Regions from separate parts of the Homo sapiens genome. Here region 2 is linked to region 1. The links come from fine-mapping of genetic effects on gene expression. A gene starts in region 1. The other region holds a variant in brackets. All regions are shown on one strand. Distances are from middle to middle.

What was found. PIP is the estimated chance that this variant, and not a neighbour inherited with it, causes the effect.
Region 2: its variant is the best candidate, but not a certain one, in a credible set for the expression of ZNF77 in lymphoblastoid cells (GTEx, PIP 0.85).

What each region holds. Positions count from the first base shown.
Region 1 is chr19:2,943,644-2,946,544 of GRCh38, forward strand. ZNF77 (zinc finger protein 77) reads right to left here and starts at 1,328. Exons shown (of 4, transcript NM_021217.3): 1 at 1,195-1,328. The coding sequence starts at 1,197. RefSeq lists silencers at 1,024-1,103, 1,244-1,493 and an enhancer at 1,564-1,723.
Region 2 is chr19:2,371,715-2,374,615 of GRCh38, forward strand. The region is part of intron 1 of TMPRSS9 (transmembrane serine protease 9); the gene reads left to right. Among named protein-coding and RNA genes, the nearest start is that of TMPRSS9, 13 kb to the left of the region's middle. The variant C/T (reference allele first, on the strand shown) is at 1,410.

The DNA.
Region 1 (2,901 bases):
CGGAGGCTGGGGCTTATCCCTATTTTTCTCTCTCCTTCTCTAGCCAGGATTTTTTTTTTTTTTTTTTTTTTTGGTTTTTGTTTTTGAGACGGAGTCTTTCTCTGTCGCCAGGCTGGAGTGCAGCGGCGCCATGTCGGCTCACTGCAAGCTCCACCTCCCAGGTTCACGCCATTCTCCTGTCTCAGCCTCCCTGGTAGCTGGGATTGCAGGCGCCCGCCACCACGCCGGGCTAATTTTTGTATTTTTAGTAGAGACGGGATTTCGCCATGTTGTCCAGGCTGGTCTGGAACTCCTGACCTCAGGTGATCCGCCCGCCTCGGCCTCCCAAAGTGCTGGGATTACAGGCGTGAGCCACCGCGCCCGGCCCAGGATTTTATTATTTGACAGGCTCCAGGACAGGGCACCACCTCCTCCTTGGCAGACCTTCCCAAACTGACCACCAAGCCCCTGACGGCTCCTGCCCTCTCCTCCCACTCTCCCCGATCCCCTGACTGCCTCTACTGTCCCCCAACACATCCCTCGAGCCCGACTCCCTTTACTGTCCCCCCAAACTTCCCTCAAGCCCCTGATCGCCTCTACTGCCCCCCTTAAAGTGCCCCTGAGCCCCTGACTGCTTCTGCTGTCCCCTCGAGCTGCCCCCAAACTCCCGACTGCAGCTACTGTCCCCCTAAACTGCCTTCGAGCCCCTGATCACCTGTCCCCCAAAACTGCCCCTTCAAACCCATGACCGCCTCTACGGCCCCCTCAAACTGTCCCCGAGTTCCTGACCGCTGCTATTGGCCCCCTAATCTGCCCTTGAGCCTGACTCCCTTCCACTGAACCCCCAAACTGCCGCCGAGCCCCTGACCGTGTCTGTTCCCGCAAACTGCCCCTGTGCCCCTTAAACCTCTACTGTCCACTTAAATTGCCTCAAGCCCCTGACCACCTCTGCTGTCCCCACAAGCTCTCCCCAAACTCCTGACCTGTACTGTCCCCAGAAACTACCCCTCGAGCCCCTGACCGCTTTTGCTGTCACCCCAGACTGCCCCCAGCCCTACCCCTCGGCCGCTGTGACCACGTCCCCGGGGCCCAGGCGCTCGTCGTGCGCCGCCCCGCGCGTCCCTCAGCTTTCTCCGGCTGCGAACTCGGGCGGAAGCCGGTTCCTGCCGCCCCACCTCGCCCTGGGCCCGGGCTCGGCTCCCGCCCGGCACTCACCATGTCCCGCCCGCTCCTGGGCTCTCCAGGGTTAGCGCCCCGCGGTCCAGCGACCGGCGCAGGTGAGCACGACAGGACACCTGAGCCGCTCGGGGTAGGCGGGGAAGCGCGCAAGGCAGAGGGGAACTCGGCTTACCGTCCTCGGGGTCTGATTGGACAGATCTCGGGAAGTGGAGACTCTGATTGGACAGTGCTGTCGACTCCGCACCCCTGATTGGAGAATTCTCCAGTCCGTCCCCCTAGCGCCCTTGATTGGGCAGGGCTCCGCTTCGGATTAACGTCTCTGATTGGACAGTTCCCTAGGCCCCGCCCCTGCCTGTCCTGATTGGATAATTCTCTCCTCAGTGACGGGCTCGTCGAGAACACGCGTGGCTGACCCTCTAGCCGGGCAGCCGCGGATCTGGGAGAACTCACTCCAGTCCAGGGAGGGCGCGGCGTCCTCCTCCCTGACTGCACGGCAACTCCAGACTCAGTTTCCCCTCGGAGCGGCCCCTCGTGCGGGGAGGAGAGGAAGGGCACGGAGTCCCATGGGGCGGAGTCCTGCGTGGGGGCGGGACCCGCGTGCGTGACGTCACCGTGCTGTCCCGCGTGGGCGCGGACGCCTGGGGTCCAGAGACCTGGAGATCTGGAGACCAGACGACGAGGCCCCAGGAGGCCGGACCCCACCAGGCGCTCCCTGTGTTCTTAAAACTCTCGGCCGGGCGCGGTGGTTCACGCCGGTAATCCCAGCACCGTGAGAGGCGGAGACCGGCGGATCATCAGAGGTCAGGAGTTCAAGTCCAGCCTGACCAAAATGGCGAAAACCACTTCTCTCCTAAAAATACAAAAATTAGCTGGGCACGGTGGCGGGCGCCTGTAATCCCAGCTACTCCGGAGGCTGAGGCAGGAGAATCGCTTGAACCCAGGAGGCGGAGATTGCAGTGAGCCAAGATCAGGACACTGCACTCCAGCCTGGGCAACAAGAGCGAAACTGAGTCTCAAAAAAAAAAAAAGCAGCCCTCCCACAAACAGAACCACGTAAGGTCATGAAGAGAGAGGTCTCACATTTATATGCTTAATAACGAAAAAGACTCTACAAAAACCACAGGCTTAAACAAAAAATACTTTTACAGGGACACTCAGACTGGTGTGACCCTTGTTACTGATCTTTGTAGACAAGGATAATTATTTCTGAAAAATGATGTAATCCTCATTTAAAATTTTTTTTTTCCTTTATAAACCTTTGTCCCAGTCTGGGCAACATGGCAAAACCCCATATATACAAAAAATACAAAAATTAGCTGGGAATAAAGGAGTGTGCGCCTATGGTCCCAACGACTTGATAGGCTGAAGCAGGAGGATCGCTCGAGCCCGTGGGGATTGAGGCTGCAGTGAGCTGTGATCTCACCATTGTACTCCAGCCTGGGCAACAGAGACCCCCGTCTCAAAAAAATGAAAACCAAAAACAACCTTTGTCTTCCTTTACCTCCCTGAATAAGCACATAGTTTGCTATGCCGCGCATATTCCCACTGCAATGAACTGTTACCACCGTTTTTAGACAGCCTGTTATTTAGGTCGACACAGTAAAAACATGAATTACGACAATTATGTTTGTATGTAAAATGGCAAGCGATATAGAGTTTATACTTCTACTCTGTCTCAAGCTGGAAAGTCTTTTCGGAGATGAGCAGTCGCGTTCCAGGCTTTAGGAATTGCGGCTCAACTGA
Region 2 (2,901 bases), 570 kb before region 1:
AAAAAAAAAAACAAAACTAGAATAGCCTTGAGCAAACCAGGGCCAGGACAACTGGTCACCCCAAAGCAAACTGACTCACTGGGTGACAGGGACTCTCACCCCATCACCACCGCGTTGGGATGAGTCGGACTTCCTGCCTCCCGCCTGGGCCAGAGGATGCCGAGAGAGTGGCGTCTGTTGGGCTGGAGGCTGGTCGAGCCACAGGCTCAATTTGGAGACATCAATGCTGATGGTTCATGATTTTGGTGCGATCTCGGCTCACTGCAACCTCCGTCTCCCGGGTTCAAGCTGGGATTATAGGCGCCCGCCACCATGCCCGGCTAAATTTTATATTTTTAGTAGATGGGGGCCAGGCTGGTCTCAAACTCTTGACCTCAAGTGATCCGCCTGCCTTGACCTCCCAAAGTCTGGGATTACAGGCGTGAGCCACTGTGCCTGGCCCCTTCTTTTTTCTTCCCTGTATCTTGGTGCGCAGTTCAGATCTGAGATCCCACGTCCATTCTTCTCGAAGCTTTTTCCTGTCACGCAGGCGGGCGAGTCTCCTCCTACTGATCTCTTTGGTTTTACAGCTACACACTTTTCTTTTTGGTTTGCCTGGGGGCATTCTCACATATCTCTCAAACCCGGCCAGTAACACCCTCCTACGTTGCTTTAAAAAAAAAATAAATGATGCCTCTTCTTGTCAAGGGCTTCCTCCCACCTCAAGGTCACCTGTCAACCTCCATGCCCACTCTTGTTTCTCGAAATGGGCTATCTTCCCTCCTTCTACCTGTGTATTTCATTCTCTCCCACCCCCAGTCTTTGGAAAAAAAGATAATAAAACTCTAGAAGATATTTTTACTCTGAGATTAGCAGTGTGAAGGACCTTCCAGAACCTTCTCTCTCTGCCTTTCTCTGAATTAAAACGCTCGCTTGTCTGAGACCGGCTGTCTCCATTGCATCTGAGTGATAAGAGAAAGATTCATTGAAACAGGCAGGTTTTATTTTTGGTCTGTCCAGCACTAAATGATTTTCTTTTGGCTGACTTATTTTTTTTTAACTCTAAACAGACTTTGCAGCTTAGTAAGAATTTATTTCAATTTAGAAATATGGGTGTTCTAAACTTTTTTTAAATTAAAAAAATTTATTTTTTCCTGAGACAAAGTCTTGCTCTATCACCCATGCTGGAGTGCAGTGGCACAATCATAGTTCACTTCAGCCTTGACCTCGTGGGGACAAGTGATCTTCCTGCCTCAGCCTCCAAAGTAGCTGGAACCACAGGCGTGCACCACCACCCCTGGCTAATTATTTTTATTTTTTGTGGAGATGGGGGTCTCGCCATGTTGCTCAGGCTGGTCTCAACCCCTGGCCTCAAGTGATCCTCCCTCCTTGGCCTCCCAAGGTGCTGGGATTACAGGCATGAGCCACTG[C/T]GCCCAGCCAGAAACTTGGGTTTAAAATGGACTTTGCATTATAATGAGATGGGTAATTCACCCAGGATGAATCCAGCCTTCAGCTTTTGCTTTCTTTTTTTATTTTTATATATTTATTGATTTTTGAGACACAGTCTCACTCTGTCGCCCAGGCCGGAGTGCAATGGAGCAATCTGGGCTCACTTCAACCTCTGCCTCCCGGGTTCAAGTGATTCTCATGCCTCAGCCTCCCAAGTAGCTGGGATTACAGGCACGCCACCACACTTGGCTAATTTTTTGTATTTTTAGTAGAGATAGGGTTTTGTGATGTTGGCCAGGCTGGTCTCAAACGCCTGGCCTCAAGGGATCCTCCCACTTTGGCCTCCCAAAGTGCTGGGATTACAGGCGTGTACCACCATGCCCAGCTAATTTTTGCATTTTTAGTAGAGACGGGGTTTCGCCGTGTTGGCCAGGGTGGTCTCGAACTCCTGACCTCAGGTGATCCACCCACCTCGGCCTCCCAAAGTGCTGGGATTACAGGCATGCACCACCATGCCCAGCTAATATTCGTATTTTTAGTAGAGACGGGGTTTCGCCATGTTGGCCAGGCTGGTCTCGAACTCCTGGCCTCAAGCGATCCACCCGCCTCAGCCTCTTAAGGCGCTGGGATTACAGGCATGAGCCACAGTGCCCGGCCAACTTTTGCTTTCTTTGCCGTACACGTGGCCTAGGGAGGTTGCAGCTTGGAGGTTTTCAGCCAACTTTTTGCGAAACTAATACACACCATGCTGATTTATTCTTTAGGAAACTTGTCAGCTTTTCACTGAAGCAACAAATGCTTTTGTCTGTACCAACTATTTGCAAAGTGCTTTACAGGGAGATCTGAGCAAGGCAGAGAGGTAAAGAAGGCTCGTGTCTATCCTTGAGGAGTTGAGAGGAGTCTAGAAGTTTCTGTACATTGGGCAAATCTGGGCAGTGCTTTATAACATTTTCCCGAGCTACAGAGCTCTGACCCCTCCGCGGCTTCACTGCTTTTCAAGCTATTACATCAGCACCAAAGATTCCTTTTTCTTGTATTCACGGTGACAAGGAGAGGCTCAAAGTCCTGCCTGTCCATTAATTTCATGCTGATTTCTCTCAACAATCTTTTTTTTTTTTTTTTTTTTTTTTTTTTTTTTTTTTTAAAGAGGTAGGGCGCGGTGGCTCACGCCTGTAATCCCCGCACTTTGGGAGGCCGAGGCCGGTGGATCACCTGAGGTCAGGAGTTCGAGACCACCCTGACCAATATGGTGAAACCCCGTCTCTACTAAAAAATACAAAAATTAGCTGGGTGTGGTGGTGGGCGCCTGTAGTCCCAGCTACTTGGGAGACTGAGGCTAGAGGATTGCTTGAACCTGGGAGGCGGAGGTTGCAGTGAGCCGAGATCGCGCCACTGCACTCCAGCCTGGAGACAGAGCGAGACTCCGTCTCAAAAAAAGAAAAAAAAGAAAACAAAAACACCCCTCAAAAACAG